Linked DNA regions of Homo sapiens: regions 2, 3, 4, 5 and 6 are each reported to be linked to region 1. Evidence: microRNA targets listed by miRTarBase, many of them from high-throughput screens and not tested one by one. Region 1 holds a microRNA gene; each other region holds the end of a gene's coding sequence.

What was found. The annotated mature microRNA hsa-miR-6770-5p reads UGAGAAGGCACAGCUUGCACGUGA and lies in region 1 at 1,271-1,294, opposite strand. An mRNA with a match to its seed (bases 2 to 7 or 8) in the 3' UTR can be bound and repressed. Matches are read on the target gene's strand: a 7mer-m8 pairs with bases 2 to 8, a 7mer-A1 pairs with bases 2 to 7 and ends in A, and an 8mer does both.
Region 2: miRTarBase lists WNT8B as a target of hsa-miR-6770-5p. Seed matches in the 3' UTR shown: 8mer at 632-639 and 7mer-m8 at 1,086-1,092.
Region 3: miRTarBase lists IDH3A as a target of hsa-miR-6770-5p. Seed matches in the 3' UTR shown: 7mer-m8 at 1,251-1,257 and 7mer-m8 at 1,453-1,459.
Region 4: miRTarBase lists SAMD14 as a target of hsa-miR-6770-5p. Seed matches in the 3' UTR shown: 7mer-m8 at 2,969-2,975.
Region 5: the mRNA of LRRC20 is a reported target of hsa-miR-6770-5p. Seed matches in the 3' UTR shown: 7mer-m8 at 2,377-2,383 and 7mer-m8 at 1,841-1,847.
Region 6: miRTarBase lists TRIR as a target of hsa-miR-6770-5p. Seed matches in the 3' UTR shown: 8mer at 3,681-3,688 and 7mer-A1 at 3,640-3,646.

What each region holds. Positions count from the first base shown.
Region 1 is chr16:16,326,503-16,330,603 of GRCh38, reverse strand. MIR6770-2 (microRNA 6770-2) reads right to left here and starts at 1,299; the gene lies at 1,240-1,299. It also overlaps the pseudogene LOC131696449 and the pseudogene PKD1P1.
Region 2 is chr10:100,482,529-100,486,629 of GRCh38, forward strand. WNT8B (Wnt family member 8B) reads left to right here. Exons shown (of 6, transcript NM_003393.4): 6 at 1-1,216. The coding sequence ends at 288. Among named protein-coding and RNA genes, the nearest start is that of WNT8B, 22 kb to the left of the region's middle. RefSeq lists enhancers at 1-411, 2,432-3,208, 2,557-4,049, 3,209-3,984.
Region 3 is chr15:78,168,743-78,172,843 of GRCh38, forward strand. It overlaps IDH3A (isocitrate dehydrogenase (NAD(+)) 3 catalytic subunit alpha), which reads left to right. Exons shown (of 11, transcript NM_005530.3): 11 at 180-3,203. The coding sequence ends at 263. It overlaps ACSBG1 (acyl-CoA synthetase bubblegum family member 1), which reads right to left. Exons shown (of 14, transcript NM_015162.5): 14 at 1-2,787. The coding sequence ends at 2,702. Among named protein-coding and RNA genes, the nearest start is that of IDH3A, 21 kb to the left of the region's middle.
Region 4 is chr17:50,109,266-50,113,265 of GRCh38, forward strand. SAMD14 (sterile alpha motif domain containing 14) reads right to left here. Exons shown (of 10, transcript NM_001257359.2): 10 at 775-3,783. The coding sequence ends at 3,628. PDK2 (pyruvate dehydrogenase kinase 2) reads left to right here. Exons shown (of 11, transcript NM_002611.5): 10 at 22-135; 11 at 692-2,887. The coding sequence ends at 832. Among named protein-coding and RNA genes, the nearest start is that of PDK2-AS1, 8.9 kb to the left of the region's middle. RefSeq lists enhancers at 2,532-3,217, 3,218-3,903.
Region 5 is chr10:70,297,777-70,301,877 of GRCh38, forward strand. It overlaps LRRC20 (leucine rich repeat containing 20), which reads right to left. Exons shown (of 5, transcript NM_001278212.2): 5 at 1,199-3,732. The coding sequence ends at 3,578. Among named protein-coding and RNA genes, the nearest start is that of NPFFR1, 16 kb to the left of the region's middle.
Region 6 is chr19:12,727,061-12,731,161 of GRCh38, forward strand. TRIR (telomerase RNA component interacting RNase) reads right to left here. Exons shown (of 3, transcript NM_024038.4): 3 at 3,580-4,008. The coding sequence ends at 3,901. Among named protein-coding and RNA genes, the nearest start is that of TNPO2, 5.2 kb to the left of the region's middle.

The DNA of each region.
Region 1 (4,101 bases):
TGTGTCACCCAGGCTGGAGTGCAGTGGCGCAATCTCAGCTCACTGCAAGCTCCGCCTCCCGGGTTCACGCCATTCTCCTGCCTCAGTCTCCCGAGGAGCTGGGACTACAGGCGCCTGCCACCACGCCGGCCTAATTTTTTTGTATTTTTTAGTAGAGACAGGGTTTCACCGTTAGCCAGGATGGTCTCGATCTCCTGACCCCGTGATTAGCCTGCCTCAGCCTCCCAAAGTGCTCGGATTACAGGTGTGAGCCACCGCACCCGGCCGACAGTTTTTAAAAGTAGGTAATCAAAAGAAAGAACTGGGAAATGAAGATGAAAGCAGCATGGAAATAAAAAATGGGAACACGGCCAGGTGTGGTGGCTCACACCTGTCATCCCAGCACTCTGGCAGGCCGAGGCAGGCGGATCACCTGAGGTCAGGAGTTCGCCTGGCTGACATGGTGAAAAATTAACTGGGTGTGGTGGTGTGCACCTGTACTCCCAGCTACTCAGGAGAATCGCTTAAGGGGAATCGCTTAAACCCAGGAGCTGGAAGTTGCTGTGAGCCAAGATCACGCCATTGCACTCCAGCCTGGGCAACAGAGCGAGACTCCGTCTCCAAAAAAAGAAAAACGAAAACAAAAAGGGAATGCCAGAAGGGCAATTCCAAAGAAAGGAAAATGGAGGTATTGAAGAAACAGCCACGGGGAGGGTGCTGGCGCCTCCGTCTGAGAGACGAGCTATGCAGTCAGGATCGCGGGTGGATGCATGGTCTCCCACAGTGGTAGCGATGCTCACGTAACTTGTGGGGCTACGCTACTGTGTAGAACGTGGGCTGCCCACCCTGACTGACTGGCACCTACTTCCAGCTAGGAGCTGTCCTAGTCCTCAGGGACAGTGAGTGCTCACGAGGTCATTCCCAGGATGAACACACGAGCCCTTCACACAGCACTGCAAAAACTGCCTTGTTCTGACGCCTGCGACGAGACTCACTCCCAGAGGGTGCAACCAGCACAGCCAGTGAGAGCAGGGGAGGCCCTGCCACCCCGCCGCGCCCCTCACCTGAGCCCCGGCCCCAGCCTGTCTTGACGAGGATCTCGTACTTGAAGCGGCCCCGCTGCCCACAGAAGGGGATGGCGCAGCCCCGGCTGGCATCCAACTGGTCCAGCTTGTGCAGGATGGCGGCCATGACCATGTAGGTCACCAGGCACACAGCACATGTCAGCATGACGATGTAGTTTACATCCGCTGTTGGCTCCTGTGAAGACACAGCCGCCAGGCCCAGGAGGTCACGTGCAAGCTGTGCCTTCTCAGGATAGAGCCGAGCCCACCCAGGCCCTCCTCGACTCTGCAGAGGCTCCCAGGAGCACAGGGTCACTCACAGGAAACACAAAGCGTACATGGCTTGGGGGCATGAAGAGGCTGGTGCCGAAGGCGGTGAGGTGGCGGGTGAGGCAGACGGCCTGGCGGGGCGAGGTCTCCTCCAGGGGCAGCAGCCCCTCTGTCCGCCACACCACGTCCTCCTCGCTGAAGTACTGGCACAGGGACGTGTACAAGCCCACGGACACCTCCAGCGCCGACCAGCGGAAGTGGCTGGAGAGGTTCAGACGGTAACTCCCCACTGGGTCTCTGGTCCTGGGAAGGGAAGGGGCAGTGGACGTGAGCCCAGGCTCCGCCAGGTTGGATGTCGGAGTCCCAGAGCCCATACCCGGTCCAGTCCCCTCGCTGCCTGCCGTCCCCACGGGGCCCGTAACCCGGGCAATGCTGACCCATGATGCCCTGCCCTGCCCTGCCAGGCCGGCCCGCAGAGCTCACCCCGGGGAAATGAAGAAGGTGTAGGGCCGGTGGTCGGCACCCTGGAGGGACTCTGGGCGGATCCTCCTGCTAGCCGAGCAGTTGCGCTCATTGGGCCGGGGCTCCGAGTGCAGGTAGACTGCCAGGTAGGGCTCGGGTTCCTCAGACAGGTAGCGGCCTGGGGCAGAACGCGCAGGTCACACGCCTGCCGGGAAGCTCAACCACCCGGGGGACACCCACGATGGCCCTCCTGAGCCCACCCTCTGCCATGGGCCTGAAAGGCCATAGGAGCCTCTGCACCAGAGCTGGCACCTGCTTCTCCGTGGCCCCCAGCTCCTCTCCGGCCAGGCCCCCAGCAGCCCATGAAACAGAAAGCAAATTTCACCAGAGACACCCATGGAAGCCCTACGAGAAACGCCTTCCCCCCAAGAACAAGGCCAGGGGGCCGCGTGTGCCCCAACCGCTGCATGCACCGTCCAGCAGCGTATAGTTGAGCTGCAGATGCAGCACGGCCGCAGGGTTGCTGCTGTCCAGGGTGACCACAGCACCGACGGAGGCCTGGGGCTGGACCACAACGGAGTTGGCGGAGCTGCGGTGGCCCCGGGCAGCCCAGTCCGAGTTGTTGGGCACCTTCACGGTGAGGCGCGCTCTGAGGCCAGCCGCTCGATGGGGATCTGGGCGCCGGCCTGTGTCTGGAACGCCATCGAGGCCACCTTGGTGGAGACGGTGTAGTTGCTGATATAGCCAAAGGGAAAGGGATTGGAGTCCACCAGAAAGATGAGCTGCACCACGTCACTGAGGTTGGCCGGGGCCCTGCTGAAAGCCTAGGGGATGGAGAAGTGGCAGCCAGGCCCTGGGGCGCCGCCATAGCACAGCAGGCTCCGCGGGTCCGAGCGCTTGCCCTGGGCCACGATCTCCTCACCCGCCAGCGTCAGGGGCTCCTCGTTGAGCACGCGGGAGCGCGTGACGATGGGCGTGAGGGCAGAGGTCAGGTTGTAGGCCTGGGACGCCACCATCCGCGATGGTGACTCGGCTCCCAGCTCTGAGCGCTGTGGTGCCCGCACGTCTGAGCTGGCCAGGTGGATGAGGTCTCCTGCAGACAGGCGTGAGGTCAGTGCAGAGACAGGGAGGCAGAGGGAGGGTGGGGGCAGGCAAAAAGGGGGAGCCGGAGGGTGGGGACTGGGAGAAAGGGGGAACCTGAGGGGGCAGAGAGCGAGGTGCAGGCAGAAGGAAGAGGGAAGCTGGAGAGAGAGTGGTGGAGGGGGAGGGGGAAGGGGATGGGGATGAGGACGAAGATGAGGGGGATGATGGGGAGAGGGAGGAAAAAGGAAGGAAAAGGGTAGAGAAAAGAGAAAGGGGAGAAGAAGAGGAGCAGGGTGAAAGGGAGGGGAAGGGGATAAGGGGGATAAGGGAGGGGAAGGGGGATAAGGGAGGGGAAGGAGGATAAGGGGGATAAGAAAGATGAGGGGAATGGACAAAAGGACGGGGAGGATCGGGGGGGAAATGGAGAAAAGGGGAGAGAGATGGAGAAAAGGGATGGTAATAGGGAAGGGGGAGGGGGAGGAGAATGGGAATTGGGGGAGGGGGATAAGGATGGGAATTGGGGGAGGGGGATAAGGATGGGAATTGGGGGAGCGGGATGAGGATGGGAATTGGGGGAGGGGGATGAGGATGGGAATTGGGGGGAGGGGAGGGGGACGAAGATGGGATGGGGCAAAGGCGAGGCGGTTGTGGGGAGGAGGGAGGCAGAGGAAAGGGCGGCATGGGGCGGACGGGCCACGTGGGGCGGGCGGGTGGCGTGGGGCACGGGCCGCGGCACCTGTGATGTTGAGGATGCTGTCTCCGATGGCGGTGGGCGTCACGGTGCCCGCGGTGGTCTCTGCCTGCAGGATGCGCATCATGGCCTCCAGCTTGTGCAGCGTCTGCTTCAGGCACGAGCGGCATACGAGCTCCCTGCTGGGCCCCTGTGTGGAGCCAGCAGTGTCCAGCCCCGCTCCTGGCCCCACTCCTTGCACACGCCCTCCTCTCTACACGGGTCCTCACCTGGCTCCCACCCCCAGCCCTGCAGCTGGAGAGCCCACTTGACTGGACCCCCACAGCCTCCTCACTAAGCATTTTTTGTGGCTCTGCATGACCCAGGGCCTCCACCTGGGGAACACGTGATGCAGCCCACTGACCACACAAGGCACCTCTTCACATGAGAGAAGGAGGAGGGCAGAAGGGAGAGAGGAGAGGGAAGTGGAGAAAAGGGGGGAGAGGAGAGGGAAGGAGAGAGAAGGGGGAGAGGAGAGGGAGGGGAGGAAGGAGGAGGGGAGGGGTGAGGGGA
Region 2 (4,101 bases), not on the chromosome of region 1:
CTGGAGAACAAAACGCTAGGGCTGCTGGGCACCGAAGGCCGAGAGTGCCTAAGGCGCGGGCGGGCCCTGGGTCGCTGGGAACGCCGCAGCTGCCGCCGGCTCTGCGGGGACTGCGGGCTGGCGGTGGAGGAGCGCCGGGCCGAGACCGTGTCCAGCTGCAACTGCAAGTTCCACTGGTGCTGCGCAGTCCGCTGCGAGCAGTGCCGCCGGAGGGTCACCAAGTACTTCTGTAGCCGCGCAGAGCGGCCGCGGGGGGGCGCTGCGCACAAACCCGGGAGAAAACCCTAAGGGTTTCCTCTGCCCCCTCCTTTTCCCACTGGTTCTTGGCTTCCTTTAGAGACCCCGGTAATTGTGGAACCTAGGGAATGGGGAACCCGCTCTCCCAGACCTAGGGATCCTGAGAGGGAGAGACTGCAATTTCTCCAAAGCTTGCCACTTTCCAGCCTGTTTCCCCAATTCCTCTGTGCTCTCCTAGAGCTCTGTCTGAATCCTCGCAGCCACACCTAGGTCTGAGAACTCAGGCTTTGAGTTACTGATCTTCCTTGGATTAGGAGAACAGGTGTTCCTCCTCCCCTCTCCTAGCAGCCCTAATGTCTGACCTAGCCTATCAAGCCTTAGGCGCTGGAAGAACCCTTCTCAGACACGCAGGACCCAGGTAAAGTCAAAGCTTTGCCCTTTTGCCCACTGTCTGCTACCAGGGCTCACCCACTGCTGCACCTCTCTTCTGCACAGCTCCTCCCCTGCTACCTGCTGAGCCAGATTCCCCAGGAATCTTGAATGCTTTCTCTCCTCTTCTCCCTTTCCTTTCCCAGAAAAACTGAGGAAACTGGCCCCGGAAAAGCATGTCTTTGGGGTTGGTTCCTAGAGGCAGAGGTTGAAGATGGAAGAGGGAGCTCTGGAGTGCTAACTTGAACACCAAGGGTGCTACTCATCCCTATGGTATCATATCATGAATGGACTTTACTAGTGGGGCAATGACTTTCCTAGACAATAACCCGAGGGACTCCAGATACATACCCCGAAGGTCTAGGAAATACGTTAAGGGCAGATTACAGTCATTTCCTACCCTTTAAAGGTAACTTCTCCCTTCTCCTGACCTACTTCCTCCTAGCAACCAACTTTACCTCTTCTTCTCCAAAGGATCTTTGTTCCTCTGAGCCAAGACTGAGGTAAATAAAGCCACTTTCCTCTTCAGATCCTGGTCTGCACCTCTAGAGGCAGGTCCTAAGAAGGAGAAACTGAGACCCTTCCTTCTCACTAACCTGGTTCTCAAACAGGCAGGATTCAGAGCACTGGATATCTTCCTTCAATGAGTAAACTTCCTGCAATGAAACTGTTGCTTAGTAGGAAGTTCAGCACCTTGAACCTTAATTTATTGCAGTCATTGTGATATGTGCTCTTTTTCTAGGTACTGCACTTATTCTTGAGGATATTCGGGTGGGCTGTGGTAACAGATACAACCTGTAGGCTCTCTCCTCCCTCCCATCTTGGCAGGATACCATCCTCCCTAAAGCCTCACTTCCCTGGTGGCCCAAGCAGTTATCTGGATTGAGGCTAAGCTGCCAAGGATTAGTAAATCATCTATTTAAATCTTCTAATACATTCACTCAAGAGCCATGAGCTTGCTGCTTGTGGTACTTGAGTCTTCTGGTTTTATTCTCAGAGAGTACAGCAGGGACTTGTTTATGAAACAGAGCAAGACCTTGGGGAGGGAAGAACCAATCCCTGACAGACCCTCTGTAGCCCAAGGGGCTTCCCAGCCAGCTTCCTTGCCCTAGGACAGTCCCAGGTCTGGGGCTGGGCAGCTCTTCTAGAGCAGAACTGGTCAGATGCTAGACGACCTCAACCTTCCTCTCCCAGAGTAGGAAAAGCAGTGTGGCTGGCTCCAGGCAACAAAAGCCAAGACTCTAGGGGTTCACCTGTAAGAGTCAAGGGTTCCCGTATTCCAAACTAAGGCAATGGCCAGGTCAGATCCCAAACCCTTGGCCTCACCCACACACCTTCTGGTCTTACCAACACTTACTGAGGAGAGAGTTTCCCCTTCCTGACCGGGGATACACTTCCTTTCAGGTGTTCTTAGTGCTTCATTTCCAGCTTTCTCAGCAAAAGGCCCTTCACGCCTTCCCTCTGCTTTTATCTGAACCTCCTGAATCTCCCAACTCACCTTTTCTCCTTAATCAAGAAGCAGCATATACTAACCTACCTGTCCCACTTTGCAGAATTACTTTATAATGTACACGAAGAAAGTTTGGCAAGGCAGCTAGAAAATTTAAAAGCACAATGTTGTAAAGTAAAGCTACATTCTCCAGGTCTCTTAGCATAAAAGCAGAACTATTGTGCTTCATATTTGGTAACTCCAGGTCAGCACTCTAAATACGTCATGCCGCCAGAACATTATTTCATAGGTTATTGTTTTATACCCCCAAATGGATACCAGATTCATTCCAGTTCTACCAAGAAAACATGACTGAGATGCCTTGGATCTGTATTGCTTTTCCCTTCCTTTTGCAATATCCACTTGTTCATTTGTTCATTCAACAAACACCAGAGTAGAGATAGTGGTGAACAACCACCATTGCTGCATCACGGAGTTTAAGTTCTCATCTTACACTCAATTGCCAGGGCCGTGGTCCCTTTACAAAGTAGACAACTCCAGAACTGGTGCTTGGGAAGACATCTTTGAGGTCAGCCAGTCAAACCTTTTGTGTTACAGATTTAAACTGATGCTGAGAAAGATGACTGGCTTCTTCCCCCAACTAGTAAGTTACTGTGGGGAGAGTGCAGAGCACAGGCCCCTTCCACCTCTTGTGTGCTCTTCAGGAGCCCATCTGTCTCAGCCAGAAGACAGAAACAGAGGGAGGCCCTGAGAAGTGACAAGGACATTGGTTGGGGTGGGCAAAACACTGTCTCCTTCCTGTCCCTGGCCTGTGAGCCTAAACACAGGCAGAGCTTTTTCTTTTTGAAAAGAATCGCAGCCTCAACTGGCCTTAGCAGCAGGTTAGGGCAAAGACAGAGACGGGGTCGTCTTCGGCGCTGGTGGTGCTGGCGGTGGTGGGAGGGGAGGGCAGGCCAGGGCACTCGCCTATTGTAGGTCTGGATTGGATGCTTCCACTCATTCATTTCCTTTTAATTAACCCGCATTCCTGGAGGAGAAATATTTATGTTGGCTCCCATAGAGGCAATCCTCAGACTGGAAAGAAGGGGGAAGAAAGCCTGTCTTAGCAAAACAATATCTCTAAAGAGCTCAAGAAGAGAAAATAGGAGAACAAAATGCCATTAAAATAGCCTTCTACCCCCACTGGAGTCAATGAAAACTTCATTTCACATGCTAATCCGCCACTCCGCCCCCTTGTCTTCTCACAACACCTTTTCCGAAAGTGTTTGGGAAAAGTCTTCGCAGTCAGTACACAGCTCCCTGCAGCTCAGACTTCTCCTTGTGTTAGTTCAGGGCCCCAAGTGGGGCTCTCGCTCCAGCAGCGGCTTTTTTCTCCCCCACTTTAATTTAAACAAAGACTTCGGAGTTCATCAACCTCCCACTGAAATTCACAGCTGCTGAACAAACTAATCCCCTCTCCCGGCCTTTCTTCCCTTCAATGGGCTCTTGGCTTCAAAGACACTTTGGGAAAGGACTTTGCTAGGGCTCACACTGCTTCATCAATAGAAGTTAGTGCAAGTATTATCTGAAGAGCAAGTGGCTTTACAAACAAATACTGCCTAACAATCCCTCCCTCCCAAACACACACACATCTAGCCCGCAGACATGATGGGATCTACAACAGGATTAGGGCTAGCATCCCCTGGCTTCACACCCAGTCCCTTTGTATAGCTGAGCTCAGCCCTGAAGTGGGGTAGGGAAAACCCTGGAACTGAACACCAGGCACGGATGAAGGGAGACAATCCCCCCACCCTCAACACACCCAGCAGAGTGACCACAAATGCTGCAAGGAGAGAACCTAATTCAGTGGGAATGGACACCTTCCTTTAACTTTCTTGATTTATCTCTCCCTAAGCCTCTCCCCTGCCTTACTAGGGTGCAGGAAGCAAGAATAAAGAGGACTAGAAAGGTAATGGCAAAATAGAACCCAGAGGAGGCAATGACTG
Region 3 (4,101 bases), not on the chromosome of region 1:
CCGATCCTCCTGGGCTGGGTAGATGGTGGTGGAGTGGTTCCTCACTTTGAAATGAGGAACTAAATGAAAGAGCAGCCGAGTAACTTGCCCAGGTGGCATCTCACTGAGGGCTTTAAAATCTCCTTGGTTTAGTTTAGTTTGCGGATACATCTTTTATTTTTGCTTTTTCCTTTTCTCAGAGCTTGACAAAAGATTTGGGAGGCAATGCAAAATGCTCAGACTTCACAGAGGAAATCTGTCGCCGAGTAAAAGATTTAGATTAACACTTCTACAACTGGCATTTACATCAGTCACTCTAAATGGACACCACATGAACCTCTGTTTAGAATACCTACGTATGTATGCATTGGTTTGCTTGTTTCTTGACAGTACATTTTTAGATCTGGCCTTTTCTTAACAAAATCTGTGCAAAAGATGCAGGTGGATGTCCCTAGGTCTGTTTTCAAAGAACTTTTTCCAAGTGCTTGTTTTATTTATTAAGTGTCTACCTGGTAAATGTTTTTTTTGTAAACTCTGAGTGGACTGTATCATTTGCTATTCTAAACCATTTTACACTTAAGTTAAAATAGTTTCTCTTCAGCTGTAAATAACAGGATACAGAATTAACAAGAGAAAATGTCTAACTTTTTAAGAAAAACCTTATTTTCTTCGGTTTTTGAAAAACATAATGGAAATAAAACAGGATATTGACATAATAGCACAAAATGACACTCTTCTAAAACTAAATGGGCACAAGAGAATTTTCCTGGGAAAGTTCACATCAAAAAGAGTGAATGTGGTATATTTCTAAATGATATGGAAAATAGAGACAGATTTGTCCTTTACAGAAATTACTGAGTGTGAATAAAAACTTCAGATCCAAGAAATATATAATGAGAGATATAATTTTTGTTAATAAGACAAAGGTAATATATTGGATACAAAGACACAAATGTATTGTGTGTTCAATTATTTTGTTGTCTTGAGATTTAATATTCTTTCCAAGAGCTTTTAATGAAGCAGAGAGCTAGTACTTCATTTTCACTGGATACATTTTCAGCATCATGAGTTGTCACAGCCTCTGAGCCCCTGATCTGAAGCCAGAAGGGCTGAGTGTATTGTAAACTTATTCTTGCATGTTGCTGTCTGGGAATGGACCACACTACAGCAGGTAGTTCTGGGGGCGATACTGCCGAAAGGCCCGAACACATGTATTTTGGCTGCAATTGAGGAACTTGGGATGCTATTAATTTTGTATTTCAGCAACTGCCCCTTCTCCTATCCCAAAGCACCAATTACTGCCCTCTGCCTCAGCAGTACCAGTATAAGATGACATTCCAAAGACTGGAGGCAACTCAGCCTGAGTTAATTCACAAAATTATGCCATGCTGGGGCTTGAGCTTGAGCTTGGGCTTAGGCTTGGGCTCAGCTTTTGACCCTCAGGCATCTCCTTTCCCTTCCTGTCTTCCTCTCCCTTCTCCTCTGCTGCAGCATGATTTTCTTAATCTTCAGACACTCACTATTTTCATGAACAGTTACCCTCTGTCCCCACAACCAAAGACAACTCATGGCCTCCTTTGGCCCTTGTGTAACATTGCAAACCTGTGGCTTTGCAAAATGTACCCAGGTCACAAGGGGATTTTTTTTTTTTTAGCAATGATATCCCTGTCTGGGTCACTTTTTAAGCTTGTAACCGCCCCCCCAGACTTATAATCTTAAATGTATTTTCCTTTGTTTAAGCTGCTGCTTCCTCTGTTTCATTGGATTGTGCCAGTTATCAGTGGCTCTTGGGTTCAAAGTAATAAAGAATTCCAAAACTGAGATGTTTGCTTTCTCTACCTGTTTCCTGTTCAGATGCCTTCGGTCATTTTGGCTCAGCTTGCTACTGAGAATGGCTGCTTCCCGTATTCAGAATGGAAGTGGGGTGGTCTGGTGGCGACAGGCTAACGTAGAGCTGGCTGCTTTTATGAGAATGCGCCACTTGACCCCATCCTGCACCTTTGTTTATTCCAGGGCACTAATGGTCACTCGCATGCCCGCTGTGCACAGTCCTGTGAGTTAAATGCCCACTACTCTCTGCACTGGTCCCACCTGCTCAATTGACAAAAAAAATCAGGTCCTTGTTGACAGTTCTGTTAAAAGGTTTAATATTCAAATTATACATTAAATAGAATCAAACAGGCAGCAGCAGTTTTATTAAGCATCAAGTCAGTTGGCATGTGGGTGGCGGAGTGCCTGGTAATGGAATAATAGGGTCGGCGATGCCCGCCAAGATTCCAGAGTAAGTCAGGTCGCTAGGTGAGTTGTGACTGATTGCTTTTCCTGCAGCGCACGTGAGCAGTATCAGCCATCTCTCTCCTACCCGCTCCACAGCCTACTGCTGGCTGTCCTGTATGTGAGCTAGCAGCTTTTTAATCTACCTGGAACTAAGGCCAAAAATTATCAGCCCTTTCGTTCTGGAAGGAGAGCTGATCTCATTTGTCACCTGAACAAAAAGCAATACTTAAACTGAATTAAAACTACCCACACGTGAAGCTTCTTGGAATTGTCAGCTATTGTTGGCGTAAGACCTGGTAAATGTAGAGCCAGTGCTGTGCCCTGACCTGGAGATCTAACAGACTTGGCAGAAATGCCTGTGCCCAGACTGAAGAGACCTGGGGCTCAGGAAGAGGCTCGGAACGCCTGCCCTCTATTCTATAGAAACTGCAGGCATAGGCCCTGATTACATTTTTTGCTCTTGGTAAAAGGAGTCAATGATACCTTTGTACTTCTCCAAAACTGTGAGCCGTTTCAGTTTCATCGTGGGACCTAAAAGGGAAATGAGAAGAAATGAGTGAGGCCCAGGCTCTGAGAACTCTGAGAATGTGTGTGGTAAAGACTCACACTCAGTCCTATATATAACTCAGGAATTAAGCCAGATAATCAGGACCGTCAGTAGCCAGCCTCCAAGACAGTGATCGCTCCTGGTATTCATATGGCTTGTGTGTAGTCTCCTGTGTTATACCACTGGTTGTGGCCAGTGGAGTATAGATGAAGGGTTGGTATGTCACCTCTGAGAATAGGTTATAAAAGATCAGTTTCTTTTATACACATAGGAAAGTAGTGTAAGCTACATCTGCCTTTTCCTTGACCTGTACCCAGTTTTGACCCTCAGTCCATTTTCTCTGAAATGGATTTATTTGTTCCATCTCTTGAATGAATAAATTGTTGAAGCAATTAAAAAATAGACTAGGTTTCTGTCTTGGGCTTTCTCTTGGACCATTCTTCCTGGGCAAGCCGGCTGCCATGTTGTGAGGATACACAGCCCATGAGAGGCCCACTGGCCACACACGGATGTTTCTGGCCAGCAGACAGCAAGGAGCTGAGGCCTGCCGACAGCCACGTAAGTGAGCGCGGAGGTGAGCCTCAGCTGCAAGTGACTGCACCCAGCTCACATTGACTGTAATCCCGTGAGACCCAAGCCAGAACCACTCAGCTAAGCTGTTCCTGGATTCTTGACCCATAGAAATGTGGATAATAAATGTTTACTGCTTTAGGCTGCTACATTTTTGGGGTCATTTGTTACACAGCAATGTATTAGATAGCTAGTACACATCATCTCTGCATTTTTGTGAACGTTTATACAACGTTGGACATTATGCTTTGATGGTTGTGATGGGGGTAGGGGAAGCCCAGGTTATGGGGAGCCTCTGCCATGGTCTTTATGAGAGGTCTTCCCCTAATTACTTTTCTTAACCTTGATTTATCCCCCAAAAGCAAGTTTGAAAGAGCTCTGATTTGAGGTCCTGGGTAGCTTAAAGTGCCTAACTCACTCTTGACTGTGTAACTGGAAACTTTCTGTGTTAAAGTCATTATATTAACTGCTTAGTGAAGACATCTTCTGTCTCTCTGACCTTGCGTTCAATATGCTGGCAGCAGACAGCCAGATAAGCTCAAGGTCTCTGATTGCAGCTCAGCTTTGCTGTAGACAATTGCATCTGGGTTCAGCCGTGATGGATTTGAGGGAATCACACTGGCATAACCATTTCTACCTCTCCTGTTCTATGAACATCCCATGAACATCTCTTGGCTACAGCCAAGAGTGACTTCAGCTGAGGCTGCACCAGAGCCCTCTCCTGGTTC
Region 4 (4,000 bases), not on the chromosome of region 1:
TGCCTTCCTGCCCCGCTGCAGGCTGGCTTTGGTTATGGGCTCCCCATTTCCCGCCTCTACGCCAAGTACTTCCAGGGAGACCTGCAGCTCTTCTCCATGGAAGGCTTTGGGACCGATGCTGTCATCTATCTCAAGGTGAGGGCCCTTCCCGCAGAGCCCAGCTGGAGAAGAGCTTTGCTGATAGGACCTGGGCAGCCTTGGCCAGCTGCGAGCTTTCCTTTCCATCCCCCCAGTCCTTCCCTGGCCCCAGACTCTGAGAATCCAAGCAAAGCTACAGTTCCTCAACCTGAAGAACCCTCAACCCCCAGACACGCACTGCTTGTCAGGGAATTTAGGGGAGTCTGTGGTCTATGATTAAGACCCCTGTGCTGGGAACCCTTGACTTGTTAGACCCAGAAGGAAGGGGACACCCTAGGTCTTGCCATTCAGTTCAGAGGAGAAGACTGAGGCCCGGAGTCCGTGACTTGCTCAGGGTCACACAGCCCAGCCTCCTCCCCCTCCCTCTCCCTCCCTTAGAGGGAGCTGCTTGCTTGAATGGGCAGGAGCGGGACACAGGAGGGACCACCCTTTTGTGGTCTTTCCAGGCCCCCGTGTCTGGCAGCTGGGCTGCCGCTGAGCTGGGGTGGGGTGGTCTGCTGAGGAGTGGACAAGGCACAGGGAGGTGGGAGGGGCTGACCCTGACACTCCCCAGGCCCTGTCCACGGACTCGGTGGAGCGCCTGCCTGTCTACAACAAGTCAGCCTGGCGCCACTACCAGACCATCCAGGAGGCCGGCGACTGGTGTGTGCCCAGCACGGAGCCCAAGAACACGTCCACGTACCGCGTCAGCTAAGGGCCGCCGTGCATCTGCACCTGAGAGGACGGACTGCCGCCTCTGGGTCCCCCCACCGTGGTGCCCCTCACCATCCTCCTGGGGGAGCAGGGGGTGGGTTCTCCCTGATGACCAGGTTCTGTCTCTATGGAAGTCACTGCGGTGATAGGTCTGTGATGGTCCCTAAGTGCCAGTCCATCTCTGTGGAGACCCCTCGGTGGCCTCCCTATCTCTGTGGGCGATGCCTGAGGGTTAGGGATGTCTCCACCCTGATGGGGTGTCCCAGAGACATTTTCCCATGGCAGTCCTCCTCTCTGAGACCAGGGCTGTCACTTTTCTGCCAGGGGTACTGGGTCCCCCTCAGCACCCTCCACAGCACAGGCCTTCCAAGTGGATGTCCCGTTGCCTTATTCCCCCAGCCCACAAAGGCACCCTGGCCTTGGCCTGCTGAAGTGTTAGGAAGAGGGTGGGTGCCCTCCAGACCTGGGGACTGAGTGGGGAAAGGAGTTACACCCGTGAGTGGGGAATGAGGCTGGTCCTGCAGCCTCTCCCTCCGCTCAGGGCTTGAAGGTCGGTGGCGGAGGGGGTGGCTCTCACAGGGCCCAACTCTAAAGTGGAAGAACCTTGTTAGACCGAGAGCTTGCCATCCAGCCAAGCTGCTCGAGGCCCTGCAGTGGCCTTGGCAATGTCTGTGCCACCTCCTGAGCCCTCCCAGCATGTCCTCACATGCTCATGCCCACCCGCTCCTCCACAAGCCTAGTCCATCCTGCCTGAGCTCCAGCCCCCAGCCCCCACTGTGCCCAGACATGTGTGCTCAGGGTGGCTTTCTCCCTAGGACCTTCTGTGTATATAGTTAGTTTTATAACCCTGAATGCCCCCACCCTTCCCCTAAGCACACAGGGGTTAAAGCTGTGTGTCCCTCCCAGTGGCTGTGGCAGTGACAGTGACACCCACACCCACAGTAAAGAGGAGACTGAATGAGACTGGCCTGGCTGCATCCCTGGGGGAGGGGACCCACACGTGCGCACGTACACACGCACACTGCGGTGCCCTGTGACCACCACATGACGCACCGGGGACGTCCGGCCCAGCTCAGGACTGTGAGTAAAACACTGGGCAAAGCCATCTGTTCAGAACGCCGGATGGCCCAGCACCTGGTGACAGACCTGTTGTCCCACCATACTCAGGGCCCAGCAGAGTCCGGCCAACCCAACAACTGGAGCAGACAGAAATTCTGGTCACTGGCACATCATAAGGATTTATTGAAATAAATTGAGAACTGCCTCCCCTTCACATGCAGGTGGGCACCCACTATAGCTACTGATGGCTTTAAGGATGTGGGTGCCTTCCAACCTCCCATGGCCCTGCCACCAGGCCCAGATGGTGCCAGTGTCCTCATATCTGTTTCCCTCCGAAGCCCCTCTCCCAGCACAGATAGCAGAGGGGGGATAAGGGCTGAGTCCCAGGTACAGGGTGCTGGCCGTAAGCCACAGCCCCTGGGCAGGAATGAGGGAGCCAGCATGCATTGGTGCCATCTGCCGCTCTGTCTGGGCAGATGGGAGGAGCTGGAGGGGTTTCCAAGCGGGAGCCCCCAGGCCTCATCGGTAACTCTGACCAGTGTCCTGGAAGCGGGACTAGCTGCTGACCAGCGCCACACATGAACACTTCCTCCAAGGACATTTCCTAAAAAGGACACATGCTGTCCCCAGGCTGCTGGTAAACTCCACCCCCATCCAGGGAGCTGGCCCCAGCCCTCAGTGTGGCCCAGGGAAGCAGAGCTTGCACCGCCTGCCAGTTCTGAGCCCACTGATTCCCTGACAATGCCTGGGGCAGATGGGGGAGGGCTGATGAACCTTTCCAATCTCGTAGCTGCCGGGGACCCCCAGGTTTTGCCTCTCTGCCTGGCTGGGGTGAGGGCTGACCAGGTCAGCAGCTCCTAGGCCTTGGCTGGTGGAAGTGGTGTCCTCTGTCCCTATCAGTTCCTGTTTGCTCAGCTCCCAAAGAGGACTTAGGTGCCCTCTGAGGAAGCAGCAGGAAGTGAAGGGAGTCCTGGCTTGGAGAATGGGTCAAAGACCAGGTCTTGAATGGGCCCTGAGAGGCAGACCTGTGTGGTGTCATCTCGCCCCCTGGGACCCACAGGACAGAGGAGGGGAGAGGGAGAAGGGGATGTTCATCCTCCCCTCTTGAGTCCTGGCAAAGACTGCACTCGCCCCAGGCTGCTTTCTCTGCGCTCCTGTTGAGGAGTTTGGCTGGGAGTCTACCCTGAGTGCGACTTGCTGCAGCGCCCACTGGCCTCTTGGGGGAGCAGGACAGAGCTCTCCCACCACACAGCCCCCTGGAAGAGTGGAGAGGAGCCGCTCCCACATGGGCTCCTGCTGAAATGCCCAGCCCAGCTCTGAGCCCTGGGGCCCGGCCTCAGGGCCTCTGGCAGGCAAGCAGGCAGGCAGGCCTCCTAGCTCCCCTCCACCCCAGCCCCACGATGGCCTGAGGGCAATGGGACAGCCTGACCCAGCCTCCCAGACTTGCCTCAGCCCTGGCCTCTCTGCCCTCTCCCCTTCATCTGCTCCTCCCCCAGGAACTCTGTGCCAAACAAGTCCTCAAAATAGGATTTATTACTAGGCCCTCTCCCTGGGGTCTCCCTTTCTGGGGTCTCTGGGTCTAGACCAAGTGACAGGGTAAGAGAGAGCATGTCCCCCCTGAGAGCGTGGGACCAGGCTAGCCCAAGTGCAGCGCCCAGGTCCAGCCTCCCTGGTGAGGCCTGTGCCCGCGGAGCCAGTGGCTGCCCCTGCCGGGTGCCAGCGCCTGTGCACCCTCCCCTAGCTCTTCTTGGCCTCCTGCTCTCGGCGCCGGAGCTTCTCCCGCTGCCGCGCAGCCTTCTCCTGGGCCTTGCGCTCCTTCTCGGCAGCTGCTGCCATCTCCTTCAACTTGCGCTTCACCAGTGCCCGGTCATGAGAGTTGCTGAGCCCCAGGCTCTGGGGAGGAGTCCGGGGTGAGGGAGAGAGTCCCAGAACCTTCCCAGTCCTGGCCTCCCACGCCCAGGCTCCTTTTGCCCCAGGTGTACTCTGTGGAGCTCCAAATCCTCCCTGGAGTGGAGCCTCCGCCTCCCACACCGTGACCTGCCCATGGATCAGAACCCCCAGAGCAAGAATTTGGAATGAGTGTGGTTGGGAAAGATGAGGGTTGGGGGTA
Region 5 (4,101 bases), not on the chromosome of region 1:
ATCCCAGCACTTTGGGAGGCCGAGGCGGGTGGATCACCTGAGGCCAGGAGTTCAAGACCAGCCTGGTCAACGTGGTGAAACCCGGTCTCTATTAAAAATACAAAAATTAGCCATGCATGGTGACGCATGCCTGTAATCCCAGCTACTAGGGGACTGAGGCAGGAGGACTGCTTGAACCTGGAAGGTGGAGGTTGCAGTGAGCTGAGATCGTGCCACTGCACTCCAGCCTGGGCAACAGAGTGAGACTCCGTCTCAAAAATAAAAAATAAAATAAAAGGAATAATGGATCGGCTGGGAGTGGGCTCATGCCTGTAATCCCAGCACTTTGGGAGGCCGGGGTAGGTGAATCACCTGAGGTCAGGAGTTCAAGACCAGCCTGACAAACATAGCGAAACTCCATTTCTACTAAAAATACAAAATTAGCCAGGCATGGTGGTGGGCGCCTATAATCCCAGCTACTTGGGAGGCTGAGGCAAGAGAATCTCTTGAACTGGGAGGTAGAGGTTGCAGTGAGCCGAGATCACGCCATTGCACTCCAGCCTGGGCAACAATAGTGAAACTCCGTCTCAAATAGTAATAATAATAATAATAATTAGAAACAATGGAGCATCTGGACTAAAACTCAAGGCAAACTTAAGCTGGCCTCTCAGACTTAAGAAAAGCAAAACCTGACTTTAACATTGAACCCAGAGCAGTAGTTCTCTAACTTCAGCAGGCATCGGAACCACATGGAGTGCTTGTTAAGAGTGCTGGGCCCCATCCCCGAGTTTCAGATTCTGCACATCTAGGGTGGAGTCAACTATTCGCATTTCTAACTAACTTCCTGGTGCTGCGGATGCTGCTGGCCCAGAGATCCCTCTTTGAGAACCATGGACTCAGAGGAACAAATTACTAAGGGAATAATTTCTGGCACTGGTAAGAGAGAAATGTGGAGATAGTGGGTCTCTTCATCCTTTCCCAGATACACAGTCTCCCCCTGATGTTTAGCCATCCTGCAGTAACGCAGCTGGGGGGCACGCACCAATTCTGCTTGGCTGCACCTGTGCCCACCTGTGAATAATCCACGTTTCATCCCGTTCTAGCCTTCTTTACCTCGTGCTTTCAACAAGAGGGCACCCCTCTTGCATGTGGGCTGGTTTGACGCCCAGGCTATAGGAGGTCTGTACAGTGAGAATGAATCAAACACCAACCAGGCAGATGAAACCAATGCATTCTTTATTGCAGACTGAAGCTTAGGGGCTCACTCACTGTGAGCTCTGATTTGGGGGCATCTGTGGCTGCCCACACTTTCCAAGACAGACAAGGGCAAACTCTCCAAGCAGAGGAGAAAACAACTTCCAGAAGCTGCCCCTTCAAAGGCCTGAGGTGAGGACCTGGGGCAGCAGGCAGCTTGGCATGCAGGGGTTAACCAGAAAGGCCGGGTCTGGAGGGCTGGGCACACCTAACCCTCATCTCCTGGTGACTGCAGGTCACACTCCCTTCTTCAGGAGTGCCATGCAGACTCTGGAACAATCTAACAGGCCAAGTGTCTCCCAGGGTGGGTTAGGGAGGAGGCTGAGCACAGGCTCAGATCCCTGGAAGTGGCAGGGAGAGAACTGAGAGAAACTTCACCCTCTGCTCGGAGGACATCCCCAGCCTAGGTCCTTGCTTCTCAAACTCTAAAGTGCTTATAGGAATCAGCTGGGGGTCTTGCTAAAATGCAGGGTCTGAGTCGGGAGGTATAGGGTGAGGCCTAGACTCTGCATTCCTAACAAGCTCCCAGGTGTCACTGCCGCTGCTGGTCCACAGACCACACTTTGAGTTGCAAGGCTCTGGTCATACATTGTGTTTGTGCACATCAGAGAAGGATGCCTCTTCTTCAACAAGGAGAAACCCCACTCCAGGGCACAAGGCAGGTGGGGCCAGCGCAGCCTGCACAGGACTTCAGCCCCCACTTGCCCCCAACACCCACAGATGAACTCGGTAGCTCTGGAGATCCTGTCTTGACCTCCTCATCCTGAAAACCCTTTGCCCAGAGTTTGACCAACCAGGCCTTGGGATACGAGCAGAATGAACAGAGTCTCTTGAGATACTGAGCGCTCAGTGATGGCCCAACAATGGCCCGACCTATCAGTTCCTTCCCAAGAGACAAGAGACCTGGGCAGGGACGAGGGAACTGGGAGCATTCTGAGCAGGGATTACTGCTCTGAGCAGTGGTCTGAGCTCTCAACATCTTAGCCTTAGGAGTAGTAAAGTGGCCACTCGTCCACGGCACACAGGATTTGGACGGCCTGGCTTTGCCTCAAGCTCTGGGGCCTCAGGTGTCTCTGGAGATGCAAACAAAGATGCAGATCAGGTGGGGTCTGGGGCACTGAGTTGGCTTGCTCCACAGATGAGGAGAAGGTGGGAGGTAGATACCTGAGGACCAAGCAGTCAAGGTTCTTCAAGCCACAGGCGTTCTCGGGAAGCAAGAGCCCCAGGCCCTCTCCTGGTAGGGGACCAACCATCCCCACTTGCTGGGTACTGTCCCAGTTTTAGCATTGAAAGTTCCATGTCCTGGGAAACCAGGACAGCTGGTCACCCTGTTGCCTGACCATACCCTAAGATGCCAGGTTGAGGGCCTCAGAAGAACCAGGTCATCAGGGCTTTGGGCGTTGGCCTGGGAGCTGGCTGGCTACAAATCCCGTGGTCCACATCGCCTTCTGCCCCCAGGAGGCCATGACAAGGCAGCCAGGCTGCTGCTGGACTGGACAGTGGTGAGGGTGGCCATCTAATCACTTTAGACAAGAGCTGCAGGTGTAACTGACTCTGCTGTTCTCTGGGCCACCTCTCCCGCAGCTCAGGAGTGATGCTAGAGGGACGGAGCACTCAGGACTTCCCACCCCGCCAATTTGTTAACTGTGGGGAATGACAGAGCTGACGTGACTTGCTCCCCATTCCCAGCCTGCTGGTCCTCGGGCTCCTACATGAATGTTCTTGCCCTGCAGCAGTGCCAGCCCATATTCCCACCACAGCTCTCCCAGGACTCCTAGTTCAGGTTCCCACCAGTCCAGGGACCACAGGACTGAAGACTGGGCCCTGCAGAGGGCCGCATCCAGGTCAGTTCTCAGGAAGCAATAAATAGATGGAGGTTGTCTTCTCTTCTCAGGGCAGCAACTGGCTCTCAGCACTAAAAACAAGGCCTCAAACCCGCAGGGGCTCAGAAAATACCTGGCAATGCCCACCTGTGCCTGCTGATCTGGAGGTAACTTGGAGGCACGTACTGCTTAAAAACCTCCAGGGAGCCCAAAGGAGGGAAAGGGTCCTGTTTTTTTCAAGTGACAAGGCTCAGAGAGGGCAGGAGATCTGCCTGAGTTTGCACAGCAGCTGTGAGTGCCGAGTCCAGGCTGCAGGCCCCACCTTGCCTCTTCCCTTGGGCATTCCAGAGCCCACTACTGCTGTAAGCTATCTATCCAGACCAGCTGCACCCCACCCACCACGTGCTGCTCGGCCCACCCGCCCCCAGCCCCCAGGCTTGGCCTCCCATGGGCCTCCCTCCCTTCCAGGGTTCCAGGCCTGTGGCCTCTGCCCCTTGCTGGGTGGGCATGAGGAGGGTGGCCTAAGGTAGGGGGGCTCTTGCGCCTTCCGGAGACATGAGCATGTCAAACTTGATGAGCGGCGGGGCGATCACGCGCACCTCGGCGTTGAGTGGGTTGAAGCGGAGGTTGATGCTGCGCAAGGCTGGCATGGCGGCCAGCTTCTCCACGGGCACATCTATTGGGGACAGAATGGACAGGTTAGAGTGGTGGAGGCCAACCAGACAGAAAAGAAGGACAATGGGCCATGAGGACTCTGAGCACCTGATGGTGAGGGGCAGCTCTCCATTGCCCACTGCACGTGGGCTCAGCTCCTGGTGCCCAGCCCTGTGCAAAGGGCCATCGGGCCCACCAGGATATAACAACCACATGGAGGAAAGCATCCTTAAAAATAAGAATCAACTGCTTCAAAAAGTTAAACGTAGGATTGCCATACAACCCAGCAATTTTACTCCTAGGTAGAACTGAAAGAATTAAAAACAGGCATTCAAACAAATAATTTTACACAAATGTTCATAGCAGCACTATTTATAATAGTCAAATGTCC
Region 6 (4,101 bases), not on the chromosome of region 1:
CAGTCTCTGCTGGTGGCTTTGGGGGAGGAGGAGGTAGGGATGGCTCCATTAGCTTCCTGTGTTCCCTCCCCCCATACTCCACCCCCAAGGCCAAAGTCACACCTGGGCTAGCTTAGCATCCCCAAAGTAGGAGGGAGAGACCTTTCAGCCCACATGCAAAGTAAAGCAGAAAAACCTTATTGTGTGTTAGCAGGAAGCGAAAGAGGAAAGGTATCCTATTCTTTTTTTTTTTTTTAATTTTTTGAGATGGAGTCTCACTCTGTTGCCCAGGCTGGAGTGTAGTCACTGCAACCTCTGCCTCCCCAGTTCAAGCGATTCTCCTGCCTCAGCCTCCCAAGTAGCTGGGATTACAGGCGTGGGCCACCACCCCCAGCTAATTTTTGTATTTTTAGTAGATAGGGTTTCACCATGTTGGTCAGGCTGGTCTTGAACTCCTGACCTTGTGATCTGCCCGCCTTGGCCTCCCAAAGTGCTGAGATTATAGGCGTGAGCCACCACGACAGCTAGGCTGTTTGTTTTTTTTTTTTTTGAGACGGAATCTCACTTTGTTGCCCGGGCTGAAGTATAGTGGCACAATCTTGGCTCACTGCAACCTTTGCCTTCTCAGATTCAGGACATTCTCCTGCCTCAGCCTCCCGAATAGCTGGTATTACAGGTGCGCGCCACCACGCCCGGCTAATTTTTTGTATTTTTAGTAGAGACAGGGTTGCACCACATTGGCCAGGCTGGTCTCGAACTCCTGGCCTCAAGTGATCCTTCTGCCTCAGCCTCCCAAAGTGGTGAGATTACAGGCGTGAGCCACCACGCCCAGCCAACTTTTATTTTTTGTAGCAAGAAAGGTCTTGCTGTGTTGTCCAGGCTGGTCTCGAACTCCTGGGCTCAAGTGATCCACCTGTGTCTCGGCCTCCCCAGTCACTGGGATTACAGATGTGAGCCACCATTCTTGGCAGGGCAGGGTTTTTGTCTGTTTAGGTAGCTGACTTCACATAGCAGATGCTCATCATTTGTTACATGAGTCAGTGCTCCACCCCAACCTGCACAGACTGCATCTGGCAAAATCTGAGAGCCTGTGGTGTACCGGGGTAGGCCCACCTCAGCCCACTCCCAGGACCACAGCCCTGTGCCTTCCACCCTCTACTTGCTGAGGCCGTGTTTCTCTGAGTCTTGGTCCTCTTTTGATTGAAAGTGGAAGGAGGGGCCAGGCACAGTGGCTCATGCCAGTAATCCCTGAGGCCGCAGATCACTTGAGGTCAGGAAACCCCGGCTCTACCAAAAAGATAAAAATTAGCCAGGTGTGGTGGCACACTCATGTAGTCCCAGCTACTCAGGAAGCTGAGGCAGGAGAATTGCTTGAACCTGGGAGGCAGAGGTTGCAGTGAGCCCAGATCGCGCCATTGCACTCCAGCCTGGGGGCGGAGTGTGCCTCTGTCTCAAAAAAAAAAAAAAAAAAAAAACGGGAAGGAGGGGGCTGGGTGCAGTGGTTCACACCTGTAATCCCAGCACTTTGGGAGGCCAAGGTGGGAAGATGGTTTGAGCCCAGGAGTTCCCGACCAGCCTGAACAACACGGTGAGACTTCGTCTCTACGAAAAATAAAAAAAAAAAAATGAGCCGTGTCTGATGGCACATGCCTGTAGACCTACCCAGGAGGCTGAGGTGGGAGGATCGCTTCAGCCCAGGAGGTTGAGGCTGCAGTGAGCTGTAATCTCACCACTGCACTCCAGCCTAGGCAACAGAGGGAGACTTTATCTCAAAAAAAAAAAAAGAAAGTGGAAGAGGGCCCAGCCCTAAGCTGGGTAGGAGTGCCAAGGCTGCTCAGCTGCTGCCATTCTTGCCTGGGAAGACTGGGGTGAGCCTATAGCTGGGGGACCCCCCAACGTTGCTCCAGGTCCAGCAGGTTTGAGGAGTTGGGAGGCAAGGGCATCTTAAAACCTGTGTGGGTTTGGTGGAGAACAGGTGGAGCCAGGCAGCTTCTGGCTCCAACAGGATGGGCAGTGGAGCCAGGAGGAGGGCATGGAAGGGCTAGGTCTGTGCCAATGATCATGTTCTGTAAGGTTGGACAGAGAACCCCCTCGCCCTCTTTCTCTTGAGGGTGTATGCATACAGAAGGGACAGACTCCAGCCTCCCTGGAAGGGCTTCAAGTAGCTAGAGGACTGAGTGGCCCTTCCCCCAGTGGAGCACACAGCCCCATGGAATCCAGCTCTCAGCACTCCTCACCTCCTCTACTACCAAGATGCAGTCCCCTCCACTCCCCTCCTCAGTCTCCCAGGTTCTACCCTCAGCCCCCTTCAGTCTATTCCCCACAGGAGCCAGAGGGATCCCCTGAAGATATAAAACGTATGATGTTGCTACCTCAAATACCCCCCAAAGCCTTCTCCTCACTTAAGAATAAAATCCTGGGCACAACGCAGTGGCTCAGGCCTGTAATCCCAGCACTTTGGGAGGCCGAGGTGGATCACCTGAGGTCAGGAGTTCGAGACCAGCCTGGCCAACATGGTGAAACCCTGTCTCTACCAACAATACAAAAATTAGCCAGGCATGGTGGCAGGCACCTGTAATCCCAGCTACTCGGGAGGCTGAGGCAGGAGAATGGCTTGAACCCAGGAAGTGGATGTTGCAGTGAGCCGAGATCGCGTCACTGCACTTCAGCCTGGGTGTCAGAGACAAGACTCTCAAAAAAAAAAAAAAAAAAAGAATAAAATCCTGGGCCAGGAATGGCTCATACTGGTAATCCTAGCAGTTTAGGAGGCCGAGGTGAGAGGGTTGCTTGAGCCTAGCAGTTGCAGACCAGCCTGGGCAACATAGGGAGACCCCGTCTCTACAAAAAAATTAAAGAACTAGCAGAGCATGGTGGTGTGAACCTGTGGTCCCTACTACTTGCGGGGCTGAGGTGGGAGGAGGCCAGGAAGTGGAGGCTGCAGTGAGGCAGTGAGCTGCGATCGTAGCACTGCACTCTAGCCTGGGCGACAGAGCGAGACCATCTCCCAAAAAAAAAAAAAAAAATTCCTGAATTCTCCCCACCATAATCCATTCATCCATCCTCCTCACTTAGGAGGCCCCCATCAGGCCCAAGCTGTCTCCAACCTGGCTGTTCCCTCTGCCTGGGACTCTGCCTCACCTCCCTCAGGACTCTAATCAAATGTCACCTAAAAGACATACCCGCCTCCTCCCTAGCTGCAAAAGGGCTTCCCCTTTTTGTTTGTGTCTGTCTCCTTCTGTAAGGGCAGGGAGGGTGTGGTCTGCGTGCTCCCAGCTGTTGTCCCAGAGCCTTGCAGAGCCCTGGCACATAATAGATGCTCCTAAGTGTCTGCTGAATGCACAATGCAACAGCTTTGGCCAAGCCAAAATGGAACTGTGAAGAGAAAGTGAGCCTAAGGTGGCACGGTAGAGATGCAGCAGTGAGGGGAGATAGGTCTTGGGGAAAGTCCAGGCCTACAGGAGGGGATGTGCCCCTGTCCTTCCTAACCCTTCCATATCCCGCTCCTTACTGGGTCAGGCCCAGGCTTTGACAGGTACAATGCCAGCAACAGGGGGAAGGCTTAGGTCCGACAGCGCAAAGAAGACAAACCAAGCACACAGCTCCGGCACTAAGTCAAGTTCTTTACTTCCCAGAAGTGATGGCTAAGGGGAGGGAGGAGGGTGAGAAGAGGAAGACAGAAAGAGCCAGAGAGAATGAGGAGGTGAGAAGGGGGGGACAGTAAACCACTGTTCTATGAAGTCTCACGAGGCAAGTGCTCAAGGTAAAAAAAGAGTCCTGGAGAATCGTCCACGGCTGCGGGAAGCATCTCGGTTTCCTTCTGCTTTTAAGTCCTCTCAGGGAAGGCTGTCGCCGCTGCCGCTGCATTAAATAGTTATGTACATCGCAGAGAGTCCCAGGCCATGGGCAGGTGGGGGAGGGGCGTCATTTCACCAGGGGCCGAGTTTTATCATCGTCACCGCACTGGTGAGCTTTGTACTTTTTCACTTCTGCCATGTACTTGGCCCACGCGTCACCTTTACTTGTTAATACCTGTGGAAAGGGGATACGGGTTAGGACGGGGGTGCCAGGAACCAGGGTCAGGACTGCCCTGAGACAGGTGACCCATTCCCAGTGTCACCCAGA